7 linked regions of the Homo sapiens genome follow. Changing the gene in region 5 together with the main gene of any one other region gives a genetic interaction. Each region holds a gene or a part of one and is shown on either strand. Other genes may lie near its edges.

The links.
Region 1: changes in IGF1R (region 5) and CAMK2A together harm fitness less than expected from each alone (positive genetic interaction), as found in Homo sapiens cells (one large-scale study listed by BioGRID).
Region 2: changes in IGF1R (region 5) and TAOK2 together harm fitness more than expected from each alone (negative genetic interaction), as found in Homo sapiens cells (one large-scale study listed by BioGRID).
Region 3: changes in IGF1R (region 5) and TRAPPC13 together harm fitness more than expected from each alone (negative genetic interaction), as found in Homo sapiens cells (one large-scale study listed by BioGRID).
Region 4: changes in IGF1R (region 5) and RICTOR together harm fitness less than expected from each alone (positive genetic interaction), as found in Homo sapiens cells (one large-scale study listed by BioGRID).
Region 6: changes in IGF1R (region 5) and EP300 together harm fitness less than expected from each alone (positive genetic interaction), as found in Homo sapiens cells (one large-scale study listed by BioGRID).
Region 7: changes in IGF1R (region 5) and MTOR together harm fitness more than expected from each alone (negative genetic interaction), as found in Homo sapiens cells (one large-scale study listed by BioGRID).

What each region holds. Positions count from the first base shown.
Region 1 is NC_000005.10:150,286,974-150,291,076, reverse strand, and holds the start of CAMK2A (calcium/calmodulin-dependent protein kinase type II subunit alpha), read left to right. Parts: upstream 1-1,303; 5' UTR 1,304-1,451; coding exon 1,452-1,513; intron 1,514-4,103. UniProt on the Homo sapiens protein: Calcium/calmodulin-dependent protein kinase that functions autonomously after Ca(2+)/calmodulin-binding and autophosphorylation, and is involved in various processes, such as synaptic plasticity, neurotransmitter release and long-term potentiation.
Region 2 is NC_000016.10:29,980,368-29,983,867, forward strand, and holds part of TAOK2 (serine/threonine-protein kinase TAO2), read left to right. Parts: intron 1-1,293; coding exon 1,294-1,387; intron 1,388-1,491; coding exon 1,492-1,573; intron 1,574-2,366; coding exon 2,367-2,534; intron 2,535-2,683; coding exon of another isoform or gene 2,684-2,704; coding exon 2,705-2,965; intron 2,966-3,135; coding exon 3,136-3,297; intron 3,298-3,500. UniProt on the Homo sapiens protein: Serine/threonine-protein kinase involved in different processes such as membrane blebbing and apoptotic bodies formation DNA damage response and MAPK14/p38 MAPK stress-activated MAPK cascade.
Region 3 is NC_000005.10:65,656,027-65,659,526, forward strand, and holds part of TRAPPC13 (trafficking protein particle complex subunit 13), read left to right. Parts: intron 1-2,341; coding exon 2,342-2,475; intron 2,476-3,500.
Region 4 is NC_000005.10:39,064,400-39,067,899, reverse strand, and holds part of RICTOR (rapamycin-insensitive companion of mTOR), read left to right. Parts: intron 1-3,500. UniProt on the Homo sapiens protein: Component of the mechanistic target of rapamycin complex 2 (mTORC2), which transduces signals from growth factors to pathways involved in proliferation, cytoskeletal organization, lipogenesis and anabolic output.
Region 5 is NC_000015.10:98,962,285-98,965,030, reverse strand, and holds the end of IGF1R (insulin-like growth factor 1 receptor isoform 1 precursor), read right to left. Parts: 3' UTR 501-2,746; downstream 1-500. UniProt on the Homo sapiens protein: Receptor tyrosine kinase which mediates actions of insulin-like growth factor 1 (IGF1). Binds IGF1 with high affinity and IGF2 and insulin (INS) with a lower affinity. The activated IGF1R is involved in cell growth and survival control.
Region 6 is NC_000022.11:41,099,092-41,102,591, forward strand, and holds part of EP300 (histone acetyltransferase p300), read left to right. Parts: intron 1-3,500. UniProt on the Homo sapiens protein: Functions as a histone acetyltransferase and regulates transcription via chromatin remodeling. Acetylates all four core histones in nucleosomes. Histone acetylation gives an epigenetic tag for transcriptional activation.
Region 7 is NC_000001.11:11,252,552-11,256,051, reverse strand, and holds part of MTOR (serine/threonine-protein kinase mTOR), read left to right. Parts: coding exon 1-60; intron 61-2,078; coding exon 2,079-2,213; intron 2,214-3,500. UniProt on the Homo sapiens protein: Serine/threonine protein kinase which is a central regulator of cellular metabolism, growth and survival in response to hormones, growth factors, nutrients, energy and stress signals.

The sequences.
Region 1 (4,103 bases), on a different chromosome or scaffold from region 5:
GAGAATCACTTGAACCCAGGAGACGGAGGCTTCAGTGAGCCGAGCTTGCACCACTGTACTCCAGCCTGGGTGACAGAGTAAGACTCTGTCTCCAAAATAAATAAATAAATAAATAAATAATATAAATAATAAATGTCCAGGAATCAGAGCTCAAACTCAGATCCTTAGTCTTAAACTCCAGTCCCTTTTCTTCCTAACTCCAAGACCTTGGAGTAAGATCTTGTGGCTGTAGGTATGGCTGATGCCCTGAAGAGTTGAAGTTGGCAGGGAAGGTGCCCAGAAAATTTTGGATTGAAGATTTCATGGCAAGTCTCTGGCCAGTGGCCTAGCCCGGGTAAGCCATGCTATGCTCACCTCCCCACAGCCCCCTCTCGCCTTTTTTTTTTTTTTTTTTTTTACCTTGACTGGAAGCACAAGCAGAAACTGGGACATGAGCACCAGGAGACCAGATTTCCATGGTCCCGTTGGGGGCATGGGGTTGGGGAGAGGTTGCAGAGGAGGGCTCTGGAGGGGAGCAACTGTCACAGCTGTGAGAGGTGGGGGTGAGCAGGCAGTCAGGGCTGTTCCCTCCAGAATCCTGGGGTGTCCTCTGCACTTCTGCGCCAAGCTGGAGTGCTAGTGTGATGGACAAGGTGGTAAGAGAGCTGAAAGAGCACGAGCATAACAAGAAAGACAGAGGCAGAAGCAAAAAAAAAAAAAAAAAAAAAACAGAGGGCAACAGAGAGACAGTTACAGAGACTACAGTGATCCACAGAGGGAGAGCCATCCCTGTGAATTAGCCATCATTTCCCTGTAAACCTTAGAACCCAGCTGTTGCCAGGGCAACGGGGCAATACCTGTCTCTCTAGAGATGAAGTTGCCAGGGTAACTGCATCCTGTCATTCGTTCCTGGGGACCATCCGGAATGCGGCACCCACTGGCTGTTACCATGGCAACTGCCTTTTTGCCCCACTTAATCCCATCCCGTCTGCTACAAGGGCCCCACAGTTGGAGGTGGGGGAGGTGGGAAGAGAAAAGATCACTTGTGGACAAAGTTTGCTCTATTCCACCTCCTCCAGGCCCTCCTTGGGTCCATCACCCCAGGGGTGCTGGGTCCATCCCACCCCCAGGCCCACACAGGCTTGCAGTATTGTGTGCGGTATGGTCAGGGCGTCCGAGAGCAGGTTTCGCAGTGGAAGGCAGGCAGGTGTTGGGGAGGCAGTTACCGGGGCAACGGGAACAGGGCGTTTTGGAGGTGGTTGCCATGGGGACCTGGATGCTGACGAAGGCTCGCGAGGCTGTGAGCAGCCACAGTGCCCTGCTCAGAAGCCCCGGGCTCGTCAGTCAAACCGGTTCTCTGTTTGCACTCGGCAGCACGGGCAGGCAAGTGGTCCCTAGGTTCGGGAGCAGAGCAGCAGCGCCTCAGTCCTGGTCCCCCAGTCCCAAGCCTCACCTGCCTGCCCAGCGCCAGGATGGCCACCATCACCTGCACCCGCTTCACGGAAGAGTACCAGCTCTTCGAGGAATTGGGCAAGTGAGTTGTGCCTCAGGAAGTCCTGGAAGGCATGGGGGGCGGGGAGGTCAGGGTCTCTAGTGGGGTGTGTGTGCCTGCAGTGCTTGGGGAGCATTCCTTGTACACAGATGAAGGCAGGCTGCATGGGTTTGGGGGCACCTGCCTGTGTACAGAGTGTCCAGAGTCGGGCGTGGGTATGTTTGTGGGTGCACAGATGTGCCAAGCTAGCCAGGCCAGTGTGTATGTAGGGATGAAGGGTTGACAGTGTATGCCAGTGCACACACATACACACAAAATGCACACAAGTACACACAACCTGGATACACACAGATTCTTAGAGACTTAGGGTTAAAAAGGGATTTTCCTAGTCAGCTGGGTCCAAAGCTGGAATTCCTTCTCTAGTTTTGCTTGAGGTGGCCATCCGCCCTCCACTTAGATACCTCCAGTGACAGAGAATTCACCAGCTCCCGGTAGTTCTTCCTGACTTTAGACACCCACAGTGACTGTACAGAGTGGCCAACTTCTCCCTCCCTACCTCCCCTTTCTCAGCTCCTGCCAGGAGTGAGGGCGTCAGTACAGTAGGGGTTAATATCTGAGCATGACAGGCTTCCCGGGTGTTGGGAGGTGGGGAGAGGAAATCAGGAAAGCTGTAGCGGGGAGCACCGCTGTTTCAGGGGCTAGGGTATGAAGGGTGCAGTGGCTCTGGACAAGCAAAGTTGCCCAGCCCAGAGCTCATTTTCTGCCCTGATGACTGCTGTGTAGAGAAGGATGGGAGGATGAGGAAAGAGGGGAGGCCCTTGTGGGTGGCCCAGTAGGGTGTGGAGTGTCAGGGAGGGATTCCTGGATGTCCCCAGCTGGGTTTCTGGAGGATCCTGGGATGGGTCAAGGGTTGGGTGCATTTTGGAGGCAGAGTTTGCCTTGTGGGCAAAGGAGCACCGATGCCCTGGTTGGTTTCTGCTGAGGCAGCAGGAGCACGGGGGGAGGGGCCCTGGAGGCAGGTGTGTATTGGTGTGAGTTCTGAATGTGTGTGTACTAGTGTGCATTTTGAGGAGTGATGTGTGTGGCTGTAGAAGGGCTTTTGAGGGAAATTGCTTGTGACACTGGGGTACGCTGGTGTGCCCTGCCAGGGTGTGCAAGCATTCATGCATGTGCACCAGGAAGAGGTGCTTCGTGTGTAAGGCCTGAAAATGCAAGTGTGCCTTGCAAGGGTGCATGTGTGTGAGTATTACAAGAGTGCTGTTGGCTGGGTTGAATGAGAACAAGGGTGTAAACATGACTCATTAAATGTGCACATGTATGGCAGGTTAGAGCTGTGTGCACATAGGAAGGCACATGTGTGTGAGGTCTAGGGGTGTGTGAGGATGCTCATATGAGATGCGGACACAATGGTGTTCCTGTGAGGTCTTGATATGCACATCTACGTGAAGACTGGGGTCATGCACACAGGATGATGTACGTGTGTGTGCACACGCATGTGTGTGCATGTGTGAGGCCTGGGCTCACAGGGTTATGTGGGAGTATGGGTGTTATAGGCATGTGTGAGCTCATGCTGGTGTCTGCATATGTGTGGGAGGTGGCCCTGTGACTGTATACAGGAAGGCTGCTTGCACACACACACACACACACACACACACACACACACACACAGAGGCTATCCTACAGGCATGCACCACCTCCCTTGAGCACATATACCCCCATGTGTACGTGTGTTCACTCTTATCTGCAGACTTTCAGCTTTTCTGAATGTGCTTTTTTTGCGGGTAGGGGCAGGAACAAAATGTTTGGGGCTGCTCTGGAGGACTGAGGCTGTCTACAAACTTGTGCAGGGACCCCTCTCCAGGTGTTTTCCAGTGCTCGCCTAGAACCCAAGAATTCCCTGATTAGCCATGAAGCTGCCTTTCAGGGAGTGACCAAGACTGGGTCCTGGCAGGACTGCGTCATGAGTACAGTGAGATGGAGTTGAGATGTGACTCAAGTGCTCAAAGTGAAAATAAAAGTGATGTTTTGCCCCAAGAGGAGATGGATATCATTAAGACTGGGTTTTGTGGGGGCAACTTGGTAGAGAGACCCTTCGTGAGCCTTCACAGAGAATTTCAGGGGCAAGGGAGCCCTGGTGTGGCCATGGCAGGAAAACCGAGGGTAGCAGGCATAGCTAGGCCTTGTTTAATCAATTTCAGACTTCTTCCTTCCAGAACCATCAGACTGCTCTTAACCTTTTTTAGGTCACATATTCCTTCAGGAATCTGATGAAAGTCTAAATCTACGTTCCCCAGAAAAACGCACAAACCTACGAAATGTTGCATGCAATGTCAGGAGCTTGCAGGGACATCGGGAAGACTGTGTATGAGCCTAAGTTTGCAGAAGCTTGTGTTAGAGACAAGGGGATAAAGTGGACTGATTCCGCACCCCTGATGTCTGTGTTAAAAAGTCCAGACCACATCATTGAGGAGCCTGGGGCTCCTGCTCTCCACAGCAGCTTCAGTCTGAGCATCCAGTGGTGCAGGGAGGGGCAGTGCCCTGCGTAGCCACTAGGGACACAGGCGCTGTCCCTCATCACCCATAGCTCTGTGACACCAGGCAGGCTATGCTACCTCTTTACCCCCACCTGTAG
Region 2 (3,500 bases), on a different chromosome or scaffold from region 5:
CTTAAGTACTGATGCCAGAGAGGTCTGCCTAAGCTCAGTGCTGTCATTTCACTCCCTGTTTGGAGCCATGAGTGGCCCCCTGTTGCCTTCAAGACTGAAGCCATCCCCATCCTTCCTCCCACCAACCTAGAGGCTTTGCTTCGTAAATGCTGGCCCTTTCCTTCATGGGCTCCACCCTCTGAGTGTGTCATGAACTCTTCCACTTCCTTGCCTTGGTTCGTATTGGGTCCTCTGCCCGAGGTCAGAGATTTGGACGAGCCCTTCTCCTCCATCTTCACAGTCTCCATTTACCATTAGATGCCAGGCCCAGACAGTTGATGAAAAATGTAAGAAACGGACCCAAGTATAAGAAAAAGCTAGATCTGTCCATTTTATTTCTAGTTTTTGGAAGAGATGTGGATACAGAGAAATATTACTCTACTATTGAAAAAAATATATATCAGTCTGATTATAAATGTCAACTCATACTAAGTCAATATCAGGGAAGCAGTGTGGAGAAGGATGTGGCAAACTGGAGATTGCTGTTTCCATAGAAAGAGGGCAGCTAATGCTTATCTCCAGACCATTGTTATGCAGTAATGTAGACTCCATTTCACCAGATTTAATTCTTAAGGAGAAACTGGAAACTTGTATTATTATTTGATTATTACTTTTGGCAGTTAATTTTAAAAATCACCGTTTAGGCCAAAACAACATGACATTTGTCTGGGCTACAAGGGACTCTTAGCGACTCTTAGCTTGCACTTACCTTTCTAATCTCAGGGCTTTTTACAAAGCCCTTCTCTGAATTCCCTGAAGATATGCTAGCTTGAAGGCTCACTGCATACTCTCAACTTCCCAGCCACTTCCCTGTTTCCCTCTTATACCAGTTAATACTTTGATGTTATTTTTTCAGTCCTATTTAATCTTTTAGACTGGAGGTTCCTTGAGGGTGGGGCCTAATTCTTGTTTTTATCTTCCCCATAGCAATTATCAAGTTATCTGCTCCCTTTGGCACCTAAGAAATATTAGTTGGGGTGATAACTGAATGGCTGTCCTTCTGCCTTCGTTACTGCTTTTGTGGATGTTATTTTCTTTGACCCCTATTCCACCCGTGTGCAGTGGAGAGGATGGGTGTTGTATTTTACAGAGGAAGGAATTAACTGAGACGCAACAGGATGATGGGAACTTCTCAAGGTCATGTGGCAAGGAAGTCAAGGAATTGGGGTTTGAACCCAAGTCGTCTCAGTTCCATTCCATTGTCCTCTACCCCCTGCCACCTCTCACCTTCTTCCCTTTCACCTTTTTCTGTAGCTGAACGGAAACCACCGCTCTTTAACATGAATGCGATGAGTGCCTTATACCACATTGCACAGAACGAATCCCCCGTGCTCCAGTCAGGACACTGGTGAGGACTGAGATTCCGAATCTGGGCCCAGGCGTTAGGCCATGGGGTATGGATGCCTGACTCATGCCTTCCCCACCCCTCTCCCACCCTCCTGTGACTTTCAGGTCTGAGTACTTCCGGAATTTTGTCGACTCCTGTCTTCAGAAAATCCCTCAAGACAGACCAACCTCAGAGGTTCTCCTGAAGGTGAGGGCCTGCTGGCCTAGCATTCTCCTGGAACTGTAGCTTGTTACAGCCACAAGAACCCCCAGGGAAATTAGTGGTTCCCAGTTCCTCCTCCACCAAGAGCTTCGTTGATGAATTCCCACCCCATCCCCAATGCCTAGTGGACTCTGTGTTTTACAAGATTTTGTCTACCAGACTGCCTTAATTTATTAAGTAATAAACTGTTTTCCCTTCTTTTATTAATCAAAGATTTATATAATTGCCAGCCAGAGCTTCTGGTCAGCATGTGATAACCAGGGTTGCCCCACTGATCTGATGTAATGCAAGCCAAAAGCCTGTGTAGCCTTATCATGGGTAAATGTATGATTTCCCTTAGGTGTTTTTTGAATTATCAAAAATGGAGGGGCCCCATTCCCTTCACAGACCCATGGGGGCCTGAGGAGCCGTAGTTGGAAACTTCAGATTATGTAGTTGGACCCACTTGTTTTATAATTGTAGGATACTGTATGAAGCCCAGAGGGGCCTCATGACATGTCCAAGGTCACATAGCCCTTTAGTAGAGGAGCTGGACGAGAATCCAGTTCTCCTGACTGTCCCTGCCTGTCAGCCATGCTTAGAGGAAGAAGAGTCTGTCTGGGGAGTAGGTACTGGGTGGTACAGAAAATTGTGAGAGAAGGGCTTGGGATAAGGCCAGCATCAACCCGTGGTGGGCGTGGGCCCCAGAAGAGTGCCTCAGGCCTGAGGGAATGCCAAGGGCTGTGGGTTGTGGGGGGAAGGGGAGTTGGCAGCAGACCTCAGTGCCCTCTTCCCCCAGCACCGCTTTGTGCTCCGGGAGCGGCCACCCACAGTCATCATGGACCTGATCCAGAGGACCAAGGATGCCGTGCGGGAGCTGGACAACCTGCAGTACCGCAAGATGAAGAAGATCCTGTTCCAAGAGGCACCCAACGGCCCTGGTGCCGAGGCCCCAGAGGAGGAAGAGGTGACCCAGCTTGCCCTAACACCCCTCTTTATACCCCATGTGTGCCTGCCCCCTGCAGTTGCTTGGCCCCTTCCCCAGCCCTACTCACACCACCATCTTCCCATGCTACCTCCATGCATATGCCCCAGGGCTTCCCCTTCCCTGTCCAGCAGCCTACGCCCTGTTCGCAGGAGGCCGAGCCCTACATGCACCGGGCCGGGACTCTGACCAGCCTCGAGAGTAGCCACTCAGTGCCCAGCATGTCCATCAGCGCCTCCAGCCAGAGCAGCTCCGTCAACAGCCTAGCAGATGCCTCAGACAACGAGGAAGAGGAGGAGGAGGAGGAGGAAGAGGAGGAGGAGGAAGAAGGCCCTGAAGCCCGGGAGATGGCCATGATGCAGGAGGGGGAGCACACAGTCACCTCTCACAGCTCCATTATCCACCGGCTGCCGGTACACAGCTCACCCTTGGGGGACCCGAGCCACCTGCTCTAGAACTGCCTGGGTCTTCGCCCTCCTTCCCTAAGTGCAGCACTCCTCTGAGTCTGATTGGCTGTCCTCAGGTAGCTCTCTTTGGACCCAGTGGCCTCTGAGCCTTGGGTGTTCCTTCTATCTCCCTCTAGGGCTCTGACAACCTATATGATGACCCCTACCAGCCAGAGATAACCCCCAGCCCTCTCCAGCCGCCTGCAGCCCCAGCTCCCACTTCCACCACCTCTTCCGCCCGCCGCCGGGCCTACTGCCGTAACCGAGACCACTTTGCCACCATCCGAACCGCCTCCCTGGTGAGTGTAGCCATCCTCACTCAGCCTGCTCGCTGTCTGTTTTTTAAGTCTTTTTAAGTCTAGAAATGATTTCCTCCCTGTGGCATGGGATTGAGTCTGGATTCTACCCTCATTTTCTGTTGCTGGCTCCTGCCTGCTCCCCTTAACCCTCCTGCTTCCCTCCTCTTCCCAGTGGACTGTTTTGGTCATATGGCCCAATCTGG
Region 3 (3,500 bases), on a different chromosome or scaffold from region 5:
AATTCATTTTCAGATGCACAGTGGTTTTAGTTTTAAGTCTGGGTCAGGTGATGATGGCCGCTTGACAAAATGAAACAGAAGAAAAGCAAATTTTCCCAACTTGGCTAAAATTTTGTTTTCAAAGTTATATTTACAATAAGCAGCATTTGCTTATATCACATTACATATGTAATAACATCAACTGCCTTAGCACTGAATTCTTAATTTTTAAAATATCAAATTGCTTTACACTAACTGTTCAAACTAACTTGATTTTCCATTATGCTGCTTGTTTTTCTTTCGTTTTATCTAAGCTCTTCCTAAATTTATGCAGAAAATTGCAGTTTTTAAATTGAAATGTGGGTCTGTGGTTATTTTTTTAAAAGCAATGGATTGATGGGATATATGTACTTTTTTTTAGAACCAGTAACCAAAAAATGCCATTAAATGATGCATTTTTTTAAACTGATAAATCATTTTATTTCTATTTTCATTTGAACACATGTCCCAAAAACTAAAGAATCTGTTTTATTTTAGATAATAGTACATTATATTATAACTTAATCATTATATTTTTGCAAATGATTTTCATTTTCTTGGTGTTAGTGTTTAAAAAGCTCAGCCAGGCGCGGTGGCTCATGCCTGTAATCTCAGCACTTTGGGAGGCCGAGGCGAGCGGATCACGAGGTCAGGAGTTTGAGACCAGCCTGGCCAACATGGTGAAACCTCATCTCTATAAAAAATACAAAAATTAGCCAGGCATGGTGGCACTTGCCCGTAATCCCAGTTACTTGAGAGGCTGAGGCAGGAGAATCACTTGAACTCAGGAGGCAGAGGTTGCAGTGAGCTGAGATCGCACCACTGCACTCCTGCCTGGGTGACAGAGTGAAACTTCGTCTCAAAATAAATAAAAATACAAAAATTTAGCTGGGCATGGTGGCACTGCCTGTAGTCCCAGCTACTAGGGAGGCTGAGGCAGGAGAATCGCTTGAACCTGGGAGGTGGAGGTTGCAGTGAGAGGAGATCTTGCCACTGCATTCTACTCTGGGCAACAGAGCAAGACTCCATCTTGTGGGGGTTGGGGGAAGCTCATAGGCCAGGCACAGTGGCTCACACCTCTAATCCCAGCACTTTGGGAGGCCGAGGTGGGTGGATCACTTGAGGTCAGGAGTTCTAGACCAGCCTGGCCAACATGGTGAAACCCTGTCTCTACTAAAAATACAAAAATTAGCTCAGTATGATATTGCGCGCCTATAATCCCAGCTACTCGGGAGGCTGAGGCAGGAGAATCCCTTGAACCCGGGAGGCGGAGGTTGCAGTGTACCAAGATCACCCCACCACACTCCAGCCTGGGTGACAGAATGAGACTGTCTCAAAAAAATAAAAAGCTCTTAAGTGGCAAATTTTTCTGGTCATAGTTGATTTTATGTTATTTATGTGTAGTAAACATATTACTATGAAACTTTTGAAAAAAATTATTGAATACCCTTAGTGTATCATTTTTCATGTAGGTTTGTTTCAAAGATAAATCAAGTTAGTCTGTTATCCTTCAATTACATGAAGGAAAATAATAACCAAATAGCATAAAATAATGTTTAGCATAATTAGGGGAATTAATTTATCTAAATTTATCTAATTATCTAATTTATCTAATTATTAAAATTACCTACTGGCAAATATTGCTAAATAGCATCAGCTTTAAAATCTGTCACTGAGGCTACAAAATACCTTTTGCCTGATTTAAAAGCTCTACGATGGTGAAGTATAATCCACATATTCTTTTTTTAGCCCTCAATATACATTTAAAATGAACTAAGAAATCACTAATGACCACTCGCAAATTGCTTTAATTTAAAAAGTTAAATCCTTCAAGATTACAAAATAGATTATTCATAGTATTAGTGGTCACTACACTATCTAAATTGGCATTAATATGACAATCAAAGTTATACTGCCATATTATAATGAAGACTTAATTATCTTAACGTAATACTGAAATTATAGGAGCATAGGTATATTCATCATACTAAAGCACATTTTAATATTTTAATACCTAATGAAAAGAAAGAGTATTTGTAAATGAAATTCCAGTTAAGTATTTTGGGATGTTAAGACAAAATATAGTTATCCTCCATCCATTGTTTGACAAGGTATCAGTTGACTAACACTTGACTTTGCCCCTGTTAATTATGATAGGGTGAAGATTTCTTTTCTTGCATTAATTGTGGTAACTTTGATTTGCAGGCATGAACTAATCACATTTGTGGTTAATATTTTTTCTTCATATAGATAAGATATTTTTGTTGAGATAAATATTTTAAATGCCACCACACCTTGGTGGATATTTTTTTCATATCCTCAGACTGATGAAGTATTTCTGGAAGCCCAGATTCAGAATATGACAACCTCACCTATGTTTATGGAGAAGGTTTCACTGGAGCCATCTATTATGTACAATGTAACAGAATTAAATTCAGTCAGCCAAGCTGGAGAATGGTAAATATTAATTTATGAAGTCTTTATCCTTGTTTTGAAAGATACATGTTTTTCTAAACATCCATTGCTCTTCAGTGGGTTTTTTTTTAATAGACTTTTTTTAAAGAATTTGAGGTTCATAGAAAAATTCATCAGAAAGTAGAGTTTCCACATACCCTCTTCCACTCCTCACAGTTTCTCTTGTTATTTACGTCTTGTTTTTTATTTTATTTTTATTTTTATTTATTTATTTATTTATTTATTTTTTGAAAGAGTCCAGCTCTATGCAGTGGCATGATCTTGATCTAGGCTCACTGTAACCTCCACCTCCCAGGTTCAAGCAATTTTGGTGCATCAGCCTCCCAAGCTGCTGGGATTACAGGTGCATGCCACCACGCTTGGTTAATTTTTTTATTTTTAGTAGAGATGGGGTTTCACCATATTGGCCAGGCTGGTCTTCAGCTCCTGACCTCAAGCGATCTGCCCACCTTATCCTCCCAAAGTGCTGTCCTTACAGGCGTGAGCCACTGTGCCTGGCCTACATCTTGTTTTAATGTGGTACATTTACTACAATTGATGAAATGATATTGACACTGATTACTAACTAATGTCTATAATTTACATTAGAATTCACACTTTTTGTTGTATGTTTTATTGTTTTTGGTTTTTGGTTTGTTTTGTTTTAAGAGACAGGTCTCATTAATGTTGCCCAGGCTGAAGTCAAATTTCTGGACTCAAACGATCTCCCAAGTATCTGGGACTATAGTCAAGCACTGTAGGTTTTGACAAATATATAACATGTATCCACCATTACTATATTATGCAAAATAGTTTCACTTTCCAAAAACTCTCCTGTGCTCCATCTTCATCCCTCCATTACATAAAAATAAAGATCCTAGCCCTTTTAATTTCATGTTTTACTATTCAAAGCATTTGGTCTTTTAAGTCTCATAAAAATCCAGTGAGGTAAATATGAATCCTATCATTGCTATCCTGCAAATAATAAAATGGAGGAATGTGAAGGAATGGTAGAGAAGTTAAAAAGA
Region 4 (3,500 bases), on a different chromosome or scaffold from region 5:
ACTGGAAGAAGGGAGTGAGAGACATGGGAAAAAGAATAGTACAGTATTAAGGAGATTAGAAGGAAAAGAGTACTTTAAGATTACTGTCCTAAGGGACAATGAAATTGATGGTGCCATAAAATGGAGAAGTCATTTTGGGAAGGATGATAATGAGTTCAGCTTTGCACCTTGAATTTCACGTGATTATATAAATGTGTAAAAGGTGGCAGCAAATACTGGAATGGAGGTTTTAGTTGCCCTGAATTTCTAGTCTGATTGTTCTGTGTGTAAGATGTTGAGAAAAGGGATATAAATGGAAAAAGAGCTGAAGATTTGAATGTATGAAAATAGATAAGATGATGAGGGTGTATATCATAGGGTAGGAATCAATAAGAAGAAAGGAGTCAATAGAAGAGAAGAGAGAAAATTGTGATCTCTTAAGCTAAAACAGTTTGGATATTTGTCCCCACCCAAATCTCATGTTGAATTGTAATCCCCAATGCTGGAGGTGGGGCTTGGTGGGAGGTGTTTGGGCCATGGGAATGGATCCCTGATGGCTTGGTGTTGTTTTTGCAATAGTGAGTTCTGGCAAGATCTGGTTGTTTAAAAGTGTGCACCTACCCTCTTACTCTTTCTCACTCCTACTTTGCCATGTGAGATGCCTACTCCTGCTTCACCTTCCATCTTGAGCAGAAACACCCTGAGGCCTCCCGAGAAGCAGATGCTGGCACCATGCTTCCTGTACAGCCTACAGAACCAATAGCCAATTAAACCTCTTTTAAATTACCCAGGCTCAGATGCTTCTTTATAGCAGTGCAAGAACAGCCTATTACAGAAAATTGGTAAGTGGGCGTGGAGCATTGCTCTAAAGATACCTGAAAATATGGAAGCAGCTTTGAAACTGGGTAACAGGCAGAGGTTGGAAGAGTTTGGAGGACTCAGAAGACAGGAAAATGAGGGAAAGTTTGGAACTTCTTAGAGACTGGTTGAATGGTTGTGACCAAAATGCTGGTAGTGATACGGACAATGAAGTCCATGATGATGAGGTCTCAGGTGGAAATGAAGAACTTAGTAGGAACTGGAGCAAAGGTCACCCTCATTATGCTTTAGCAAAGCACTTGGTTGCATTCTGTTCATTCTGTAGGGACCTGTGGAAGTTTGAACTTGAGAGTGATGACCTCTGGTATCTGGCGGAAGAAATGTCTAAGCAGCAAAGTGTTCAAGATGTGTCCTGGATGCTGCTAACAGCCCATGCTAAGATGTAGGAGCAAAGAAATGACTTAAAGTTGGAATTTGTTTTTAAACAGGAAGCACTGCATAAAGGTTTGGGAAATTTGCAGCCTAGCCATGTGGCAAAGAAAGAAAAAGCTTTTTCAGGGGAGGAATTCAAGCAGGCTATAGAGCAACCACGTGCTAGAGATATTTGCATAATTAAACACATGCCAAAGTGCTGATATCCGTGAAGTTGGAGAAAAGGCCTTCAAGGCATTTTAGAAACCTTCACAGCAGCCCCTCTCATCATAGGCCCAGAGGCCTAGGAAGAAAGAATGGTTTTGTGGGCCTGGGCTAGCCGGGCCTTGCTGCCTTGCACAGCCTCAAGACACTGCTCCCTGCATCCCAGCCACTCAGGCTTCCAGCCTTGTTCAAAGGGGCCCAGGTACAGTTCGGGCTGCTGCTTCAAAGGGTGCAAGCCATAAGACTTGATGGCTTACATGTATTATTAAGCCTGCAGGTGCCCAGAGTGCAAGAACTGAGGCTTGGGAGCCTCTGCCTAGATTTCAGAGGATGTATGAGAAAGCCTGGGTGTCTAGGCAGAAGCCTGCTGCAGGGGTGGAGCCCTCATTGAGGATCTCTATTAGGGTGGGGCCAAGGGGAAATGTGGGGTTGGAGCCCCCCAGAGTCCCCAGTGGGGCACTGCCTAGTGGAGCTGTGAGAAGGGGCCTACCATCCTCCAGACCACAGAATGGTAGATCCACTGGCAGTTTGCATCCTATACCTGGAGAAGCCACAGGCATTCAACTAAAACCTGTGAGAGCATTCCTGGGGGCTAAACCCTGCAAAGCCACAGGGCAGAGTTGCCCAAAGCCTTGGGAGCCCACCCTTTGCAGCAGTGTGCCTTGAATGTGGAACATAGAGTCAAAGGAGATTATTTTGGAGCTTTAAGATTTAATGACTGCCCTGCTGGGTTTTGAACTTGCATGGGGCCTGTAGCCCCTTTCTTTTGGTTGATTTCTCCTTTTTGAAATGGCAATGTTTATCCAATGCCTATATCCTCATTGTATCTTGGGAGTAAATAACTTATTTGTGACTTTACAGCCTCATAAGTGGAAGGGACTTGCCTTGTTTCAGATGAGACTTTGGACTTCAGAGTTAATGCTGGAATGAGTTAAGACTTTGGGAGACTGTTGGGAAGGCATGAGTTTATTTTGCAGTGTGAGAAGGACATGAGATTTGGGAGGGGCCGTGGGCAGAATGATACAGTTTGGATATTTGTCCCCACCCGAATCTCATGTTGAATTGTAATCTCCAATGCTGGAGATGGGGCATGGTGGGAGGTGTTTGGGTCATGGGAGTGGATCCCTCATGGCTTGGTGCTGTCTTCGTGATAGTAGGTTTTCACAACATCTGGTTATTTAAAAGCCTGTGGCTCCTTCCCCCCAGCTCCCTCTTGCTCCCGCTCTGCCATGTGAGATGCCTGCACACGCTTCGTCTTTGCTATGAGTAAAAGCTTCCTGAAGCCATCCCAGAAGCAAGTGCTGGTGCCCTGCTTCCTGTATAGGCTGCAGAAATGATAGCCAATTAAACCTCTTTTCTTATAAATTACCCAGTCTTAGGTGTTTCTTTGTAACAATGCAAGAATGGCCTGATACATAAGCCAGGAGAAGAGTTTTGAATTGAAGGGGCTGCTAGACTGTTGCATTGAAGTTGAAGTCCAGAGAACGAGGTTCTGCTTTAATCTGAGGAAGATATGGCATGCTATTTAACCTCTCTGGCTTCAATTTCCTCACCTCTAAAATGCATACTACTTTATACTTGCAGCACTTTAGCCTCCTACCTTTGTAATTCTCACATATCACTACAGACCTGGAATATTGAAAAGGTTAAAAAGAAAGCATTTGTAGCCTTGTTAAATCACTGTGAGTAGTAGTCCCACAAACAATAATGAATACATGTAGGAGTGGTGGTATTTCATAGCACTTTAAATTTAAATTACAGTCAACTCTCAATTTCCTTTTAAGTGATCCACCTGCAGTGACTTGCTGCCTCCTCCCGCTCCCAGGTCTCAGGCTACCAAGAATAAGACTGCGAAAAGCACAGTGGGGTGAGCGAATGATTTGCTTGCCTGTGTATCTGTGCCTCTGTCACCAAGCTATTAAATACAGTCCATTCTCAATTACCTGCCTTAAAAAGATGAATAATGGTAGAAGAATGCTAAATATATAATCTAAATACTTTATATTGGTGAGAAAATATTTTATGTTCTTTTCTCTCCCACAATAGATTGATGTATATTTTCTTTT
Region 5 (2,746 bases):
CAGCTAGAAAGTAACTAGGACTTTGGAGCTCCTCCAGTGACCCACATTCTGCGTGAGGCCCACTGGGTTCTCACCAGCATCCCCCCGAGGTGGGCATGTCAGCTGTGAAAGACCAAAAAGCACATGGGAAATGTGAAGAACTGAAGTCCTCTGCCTTGGGGTCATGCAGATCAGACTTGCCTTGGCCTGACTGTTGTTAGTGGAAGGTATAGGAAAAAAGTCTACAAATCAGTCGGAACTGCAGTACAGAGTTTCGTAATTTATGTATTCAAATTTCTTTCCAGATGATTTAATGGAGGGAGAAACAGATAGCTTCCCTGTCGTCTTTACTGGCAATCTGCATGCTGAGAAAGCTCAGCTGTCAGAGAAGAGGCAATGCTTTTCTGGAGAACGCTTCCAGGCAACATGCGTGAACACACGTGCCCCACATAGCTCAGCTTCCCTGCCACCAAAGTGTAGTGATGCTTCCAGGAGGGACAAAACCAAACCAGAGACAGAAATGCATACAGAATTATTTTATTTAACTTAAACCATGTAGTACTTTACTAGAAAAAAGCAGAGTAAGAGAAACTAACGTTGCCTTAGCTTCAGCCATTCAAAATAGACAGTTTCTTTTTTCCATTATGTAAAGAATCCAGAGTATATCGCAATAACAGGAATAAATTCTTACAACAGAATATACAAAAACATTTTGAAATTTTTTTCATCTACTGATTTTTTATATAAACAGGATTTTTTAGGAATAATTTATACACAGAAAGTCATTTTATGTAACAAATTGGCCATGTTATTACCTTTTTTTTTCTTACTTAAAAAAATTTTTTTTTAACAAGAAAACTCAGAAAATGCATTATTTGCGGTGCATCCATTCCATCCCGCCTTCTGGTTTGATTTTTTTTATCCCAGACAAAGGGATACCCAGAGGTAGACAAACTCTGGCAAACCTCTCACCTCAACCTCACTGGCTTAGAAAGCAGACAGGTGTTTTCACCGGGCGTCTCTTCCACCGGTGGATGTGTGTGTGCAACGCCAAACATCCAAATGAAAAGTTGAAAACAAAACCCAAATAGTTTCCAGATCTTTCTCCTATGTAGCGCAAAAACCCCAGGTGTTTCCCATGATAGAGATATTGTGGAGTTGGGGAGACATGGCCAACAATCCACTGGAGTTAGAGGAAGTGGAGTCAACTTTAAAACCAATTTTTGTGTATGTTATAGTTTTTATTAAAAATTCTTTTCTGTATTGGAAATACGTATCTTCGGGGTTCTGCCTTAAATAAAATAGGGTCTCTTCTGTGTTCTAACAAAGCAGTAATCAGTCATGATACGAGGCATGTAAGCAAATGGCCTGTGTGCCCCATAGCTGTCATCGTTTATGTGATCACTGTGTATGCTGTAATCATCATGAAAACCATTGGCTGTGCAGTCAAGTCTTCCCATGTCCATGGCACTGTGCTGACAATGACGGCAGCCAGACCAATCAAGCCAGATGCCGAACGGTGCCATGCACTGCTGGGCTCCAACACCTCGGCTGTTTCCATGGCCAATGAGGTTCTTTCCATCTGTTAAAGTAGCTACACTCCAAAGGGAAATGACCAGTAAAAAATGATCCCCTTCCCAACCAGAGGGTTCTGGAAGACCAAGATACTGAAGATACAGAACTACTTTTTAAATCATCATCATTCCTTTGTTATAAACTAGGGCAAAAAGCATGGGGGGAAAAGAGGGTGAACCACGGATGGGGTCAGGGAGAAATCCTTTTTTGGCATATTGTAAAGCTAGCTAGTAAACAGGTGTCCTAAAAAAAAAAAAAAAAAATGGATCACAAACACACATTTGCACACACAGAGAAAAAAAAAGTGTCTTTAAATTATTTTCGGCAATTATAAACTACAAACATTTTATAAAATTATTCTGTTCTTACAAAAATGCAATGAAACATTTAATTAGTTCTTGTAAACCAGATCTTCGTCAACTGACTACCCGTAATCTACTGGACTTAAGAGCCCTATTGAAAACGCTAATGAGTGACTAGTTAAAACAATGTTGACCAGAAAGATGCGGACACACACACGTGGGACATAAAAATGAGTGATCGTTATGTTCTCGCAGAAACAAAACGCTAAAGTCATGCCCCAGAACTGACAACTGACGAGTGCGATGTAGTTTGTGTTCTTGAACAATTCGCCTTAACTCCGAGATCAGTTTCCAGAGTAGGATGTTAGGTTTCTTTGTTGAAACCAAATGCCCACGGATGACTGCTGAGCCTCGATGTGGTCTGATAGCTTCAAGAACAATCAAGTTCAAAACCTTGCCCACATTCCTTCCAAGCCCTGCACCCTGCTGCTCGTAACTCTTCTCTGTGCCAGGATCCCTGTGACAATGGTTCTGTACCCACCACCCGGTCATTCCACCATCAAGGAGCACTCACTTCTCCAAATGACGCAACCAGTCATCTAAGATGAAGGCCAAAAATGAAACCCTCTGACCTGTCCAAGGTCTGTATCTTCAGCATCTCTGGCAACAGAGGTTCAGTCTAAATAACATCCTCTCTTGAAGTTCTCATTTGTACCACCAGCTACTTCAGAGTGAAGAAAGAAAGTGTCTTTCGCCACTGGTTCTTAAGGAGTGGATCTCTGGTCCACATCTCCCAATGCTGCTTAGCCCAGGAAATGAAGACAGCTGACAACACAGAGGAACATTAACGAAAAGAACAAACCCCAAACTTGAAATGCATAACTGGGACT
Region 6 (3,500 bases), on a different chromosome or scaffold from region 5:
TCTTGCTCTGTTGCCCAAGCTGGAGTACAGTGGCGTGATCTCGGCCTATGACAACCTCCGTCTCCCGGCTTCAAGCGATTCTCCTGCTCAGCCTCCGGAGTAGCTAGGACTACAGCTGCGCAGCACCATGCCCGGCTAATTTTTGTATTTTTAGTAGAGACAGGGAGTCCTGACCTCGTGATCCACCCACCTCGGCCTCCCAAAATGTTGGGATTACAGGCATGAGCCACCGCGCCCGGCCTGTTTTTGTTTTTCGTGGATATACAGTAGTCCCCCCTTATCCTTGCGGGATACATTCCAAGATCTCCAGTGGATACCTGAAACCCTGTATAGTAGTGAATATAATTGTCATCAGTCAGAACACGTTTCTGTCCGTGTCTTCCACACACAAATTTAATGCCTTTTCCATCTTAACTAATCACTTGTCATGCACTGTGGCTGTGATGTTTGCAGTTTGAGGTACAACAGCAAAACTATCACGAATTTTTTTCCTTCACAATTTCATGTATAGATTTGATCTTTGTAACCTCCGCATACAATTTTTTTTCATTCCTTATTAAGTCAAGAACTTTCACCTTCAAGCAATTTACAGCTTCTCTTTGGCATATCCATATAGCTGTCATTGCTACTTTTGGACTTAGGGACTGTCATTAAGTAAAATAAGGGTTACTTAAAACTCAAGCATTGCCCTGCCCCATAGTCAGTCTGACAATCTGATAACTGAGATGGCTACTAAGTGACAAATGGCTGGTAGTTTATACAGGTGAATACATTAGACGGAGGGGAGATTCACTACCCGGTCAGGTGAGATTTCATCAGGCTACTCAGAATGGCGCACAGTTTAAAACATTGTTGTGGCTCACGCCTGTAATCCTGGCACTTTGGGAGATTGAGGCAGGAGGATTGCTTGAGGCCAGGCATTCAAGACCAGCCTGGGCAATGTAGTGGGACCCCCCATCCCCCCACCATCTCTAGAAAAAAAATTTAAAAAGTCAGCAAGGCATGGTGGCATGCATCTGTAGTCCTAGCTTCTTGGGAGGCTTAAGGTGTGAGGATCTCTTGAGCCCAGGAGTTTTGAGGTTACAGTGAGCTATGATGACACCACTGTACACTCCAGCCTAGGTGACATAGCAAGACTCTGTTTCTAAAACAACAAAAATTAGTGTTTATTTCTGCAGTTTTCTTTGTAATATTTTTGTACCACAGGTGTTTGAAATGGCAGAAAATGAAACGGGGTAAGGATGAACTCCTGTATAGATAGACTGGATAAAGAGAAAGCCAAGTGCATGATGTTCATAGAGGAGTCTTAAGAGTAAGCCTTATGTCATCTATCCAAATGTTGTTTTCTAGGAGTATAAGAATATAGGAACAGAGCTTAAAATGGAAAAATACTGTACAGTTAGCCTTCCGTATCTGAGGGTTCCGTGTTTGTGGAGTCAGCCACAGATTGAAAATATTTAGGGGAAAAAAATCCATGGTTGCATCTGTACTGGACATGTACAGACTTTATTTTCTTGTCATTATTCCCTAAACAATACAGTGCACCAACTATTTATGTTGCATTTACACTGCATTAGGTATTGTAAATAATCCAGAAAGAATTCAAAGTATATGGGTGGGTGTGTGTAGGTTATATGCAAATACTACATGTCCCCTTTATATCAGGGACTGGAGCATCCTCAGATTTTGGTATCTGCAGTGGAGGGAGTGGATTCTGGAACCAATTCCCAGCAGATACCAAGGGACAACCATATATATATAGTATCATGACATCTTGTATCATGTCACGTATATATATATCATATATATTATCATGTCACGTATACAAGACATCTTATATATCCTATCATGTAAGATGTCTTGTATACGTAAGTAATAGAAATGAAAATCAGCAGATAGTTAAGGCATAATGAGAAAATGGAAAACATTGTTCTTGTTAGAAATGTTTAAGAATGGCTTCTTGATAAAGAACTGTGTTAAGCATATTCTTTCTTCTTTTTAGACACAGAGTCTCACTCTGTTTCCTAGACAGGAGTGCAGTGGTGCAATCCTGGCTCACTGTAGCCTCCATCTCCTGGGTTCAAGCTATTCTCCTGCCTCAACCTCCCAAGTAGCTGGGATTACAGGCACCTGCTACCATGCCTGGCTAATGTTTGTATTTTTAGTAGAGATAGGGTTTCACCGTGTTGGCCAGGCTGGTCTCGAACTCCTGACCTCAGTCTGCCCACCTCGGCCTCCCAAAGTGCTGGTATTAGAGGCGAGAGCCACAGTGCCTGGCCAATTAAGCATAATTTTTTCTATTTTTCATTTTCTTACATGGATCTTTTTTTTTTTTTTTGAGACGGAGTCTAGCTCTGTCACCCAGGCTAGAGTGCAGTGACACGATCTCGGCTCACTGCCAGCTCCGCCTCCTGGGTTCATGCCATTCTCCTGCCTCAGCCTCCCTAGTGGCTGGGACTACAGGCACCCGCCACCATGCCCGGCTAATTTTTTGTATTTTTAGTAGAGATGGGGTTTCACCATGTTAGGCAGGATGGTCTCGATCTGCTGACTTCATAATCTACCCTTCTCGGCCTCCCAAAGTGCTGGGATTACAGGGGTAAGCCACCGTGCCCAGCCACCTGGGTCTTAAAGAATAAATTTTCTTGAGATGGAGTCTTGCTGTGTTGCCCAGGCTGAAGTTATCCTCCTGCTTCGGCCTCCTGAGTAGCTGGGATTGCAGATGTGAGCCACTATGCCTGCCTCTAAGAAACTTTCTTATAAAGGAGGAAGAAGAAAAGTAGCAGTGCAGTGCTCCAAAGAATTTTTTTACAACACTTAAGGAAGAACTACCTTTAACTTGTAGCACTAGAGACTCTGTTTCAAAGAATGCACAAGAATACTTACCCTTATTACTTGTAATATACTCTCATATTTTCTGTTGCTTTTTTTTCTTTTCTTTTTTTTTTTTTTTTTAGTACTGGTTGCAGCCTACTATATTGATTTTTATGACCCACTGTTGGCTTTTGAGCCATAATTTGAAGAATACTGGCGTAGAAGAGTTGACAAGATGGCAGTTATTCTGTATTAGGCCAACATTTTCTGTATGCCAGGAACTTATCCTCTGTACATTGTTCCTTCTTTCCTTCCTGGAGTTTATAGATAAGGGAAGAAGACTGGCATTCACGGAGTCTGGTGTGATCAGCATTGTATTTGGGAAGTACGTATATAGTGGGAGGAACAGGAGAACCTAACCCAGTAGTTATCCTGGTGGCTGTCTTTGAGGAATTGTGTCTGATTTTGGGATCTCACAGATAGAGATAGGATTAGTAAAAATGAGCCCAGGCTAGAAAGGAGACTGTGTGAGGCCAGGTATATCCTGTTCTGGGAACCTGTGAGTGCTGTCTGACTGGTAGAATAGCCAAAAACTTGACTGTAGAGGTGAGCAAGGGGGCCAATCATGGAGGGCTTATAATACAGGAATTTAGACTTTCCATTTTACCCATTTAATGGATGGGGCA
Region 7 (3,500 bases), on a different chromosome or scaffold from region 5:
TGTCTGATTCTCACAACCCAGCGTGAGCCGAAGGAGATGCAGAAGCCTCAGTGGTACAGGGTAAGGAGATGGCTCCATTCCCACCACTAGCAAAGCACATCTGCGTAGAGAATCACCTGGCCTAAAGGGCAGCCACAAGCCCTTGCCATGGAGCAAGAATCACGTTTTGGTTTGCTCTCAAATGAATTTTTTTTTTTTTTTTTTTGTGATGGAGTCTTGCTTTGTCGCCCAGGCTGGAGTGCAGTGGCGCAATCTCGGCTCACTGCAACCTCCGCCTCTTGGGTTCAAGCGATTTTCTCCCACCTTAGCCTCCCGAATAGCTAGGACTACAGGCGTGTGCCACCACGCCCAGCTAATTTTTGTAATAGAGACAGGGTTTTGCCATGTTGGCCAGGCTGGTCTCGAATTCCTGACCTCAGGTGATCCACCTGCCTTGGCCTCTCAAAGTGCTGGGATTACAGACATGAGCTACCGCGCCTGGCCTCCAATGAATTTTTTATGCTCAGTATGAATCAATAGTTACTTTATTGCATTTTATTAAAGCAAACATCTATTGATAGCCATACCATTATTCTATACATTATTTTATGTATGACTAAGAATGCAAATATGCCAATTAAACTGTGACTTGGTACCTCTTTCTTTTTTTTTTTTTTTTTTTTTTTTTTTGGAGATGGAGTCTTGTTCTGTCACCAAGCTGGAGTTTAGTGGTGTGATTTTGTCTCACTGTAGCCTCTGCCTCCTGGGTTCAAGTGATTCTCCTGCCTCAGCCTCCCGAGTAGCTGGGACTACAGGCATGTGCCATCACGCCCAGCCAATTTTTGTGTTTTTAGTAGAGACAGGGTTTCACCATATTGGCCAGGATGGTCTTGATCTCTTGACCTCATGATCCACCTGCCTTGACCTCCCAAAGTGCTGGGATTACAGGCATGAGCCACTGTGCCCGGCCAACTTTGTACCTTCTTCTTATTAATAATTAATTATAAGACATCTCAGCTGGATGCTCACGCCTGTAATCCCAACATTTTGGGAGGCCAAGGCAGGAGGATTGCTTGAGCTCAGGAGTTTGAGACCAGCCTGGGCAGCATGTGGGATCCCGTCTCTACAAAAAATAAAAAAATTAGCTGGGCCTGGTGTTACACGCCTGTGGTCCCAGCTATTTGGGAGGCTGAGGCGGGAGAATTGCTTGAGCCCAAGAGATCAAGGCTGCAGTGAGTCATGATCATGCCACTGCACTCCAGACTTGACAACAGAGTGAGACTCTGTCTCAAAAAAAAAAAAAAGACATCTCTTTTCAGAGATGTTAAAATACGGAAAAATAGGTGTCTCAAAATCAGTGAGATACAAATGATACTAATTTAGAAAGTGCCATTTCTCTCTGCTCTAGTATAATGAGGCCTGTGCTGATTACTGCTGCAGAGGGAACTTATCAGTGAGTCTTATATTAGAAAAAGAGCTCTGAACATGGGATTGGGAGATGCGGGTTCCAGTCTTGCCTTTGCTGTGTGATCTTGGACAAGTCACTTAAATTCTTTGAGCCTGTGTTTTTAGCTGTTAAATAGGGATGATGATGGTATCTTCCTCAAAGGCTTATTATGAGAATTGAAGCTGGGGCTGGGCGTGGTGGCTTACACCTGTAATCACAGCACTTTGGGAGGCTGAGATGGGTGGATCACTTGAGGTCAGGAGTTTGAGACCAGCCTGGTTAACATGGTGAAGCCCTGTCTCTACTAAAAATACAAAAATTAGCCAGGCGTGGTAGTGTGTGCCTGTAATCTCAGCTACTCAGGGGGCTGAGGCAGGAGAATCACTTGAACCCAGGAGGTGGAGGTTGTGGAGAGCCGAGATTGCGCCACTGCACTCCAGCCTGGGCAATAGAGCAAGACTCCATCTCAAAAAAAAAAAATTGAAGCTGAATTAAATAAAAGAGATTGATCAGTTAGTTTTGTTGATGACTGGCACTAGGCACTGAGCAGGCGTGGTAGCACCTCAGAACCCCCAGTGTAGATGGGATGGGCCTGTATTCTTTCTGGGTTTGTACTCTGTCTCTAATGAAGGCACCCTGTCTCTCTACATAGCACACATTTGAAGAAGCAGAGAAGGGATTTGATGAGACCTTGGCCAAAGAGAAGGGCATGAATCGGGATGATCGGATCCATGGAGCCTTGTTGATCCTTAACGAGCTGGTCCGAATCAGCAGCATGGAGGGAGAGGTGAGAAGCCACGGCAGAGGGGAGTCCAGGCTCCCCGTGTACCATTCTGTGAGCGAGGCAAGGCGAGATCCATGTCCTCATGGAGCTGACATTTTGTGGCAGGAAACATAATAAATAAGTAAATAAGATAATTTCAGATAGCAGCAAGTTCTATGAAGAAAGTCAAACCAGAATAGAATAGAGAGTGATGGGGAGGGGGTGAGTGGAGGGTCAAGGAAGGCCCTCCCTGAGGTGGTGTTATTTGACGGGGGTCCACATGACACGAAGGAGCTACCTTGCAGCAGGCCGGGGGACTGTGTTCCAGGCTGAGGCTTTGAGGTGGAAGAGTGTGAGACATTGATGAAACAGAAGAAAGGGAAGTATGGCTGGTGTACCGGGAGCAAGGGAGAGGGAAGGAGGGGCCAAATTAATAGGCCCACGGTTCACAGTAAACACGAGCTTTCACAGGGGTAAACATTGGAAGTATGCACACAGGCGAATAATGTGATGTCATGCGTTTCTAACAATCACTGACTGCTTATAGGAAAAAATGTGGGGAAAGGCAGGAATGAAAGCAGGGAGACCAATTAGGAGATGTGTTGGCTTGAGAAGGTGGATTTAAAAGTGCATGGATTTTATTAGGGAAACAGCCTTCAAGAGAATATGGGGAGGAAGCTGGGAGAAGCATCGGACCACAATGCACATCTGACCCTGAGTAAGCAAGAGGGTAAAATTCGGATAGAAGTGTTCTAGCCTACTCTGCAGGGCCACCGCGGGGTCCTCAAGCCAAAGTTGGCTGTCAGAGAGGTCTGTGTCTCCCAAGAGCAGGATAGCCTTAGCATCCCTACTGTGTTCTGTCATTGGCTGGGAGCAATGGGTGACGTTGGCACAAACTTAGTGATGGGTTTCAGAGCAGCAGCTGGGGCCCTTGGTTATGCGCCTTGTAGTTGGAGGTTGCATTCTCACGGCTGCCAGACGAAGCTATTACGGTAGTCTGGGTGAGTGACAGTGGTGGCTTTGACTAGGAGTGGTGGCACAGATACTGAGAAGTAGTTGATTCAGGATATATTTGGGAGGTAAAGCTCCATCTGTGAGACTGGCTGTAGAAAATGAGCTGTGAAATTTTACCCCGGGGATTCCTGCTTATAATAGACACAGTGCTTGTTAGATAATAGCCATGCCCAGATGTGGGAGCAGCGCATGCAGCAGTGTGCAGAAGCAGGAGGAGTCTGGCTTCAGATCCCCACCGCTCTGATGACTGTGCGACTCAGGCAAGTTACCTGTTTAGCCTCATTTTTCTCCCTTTGG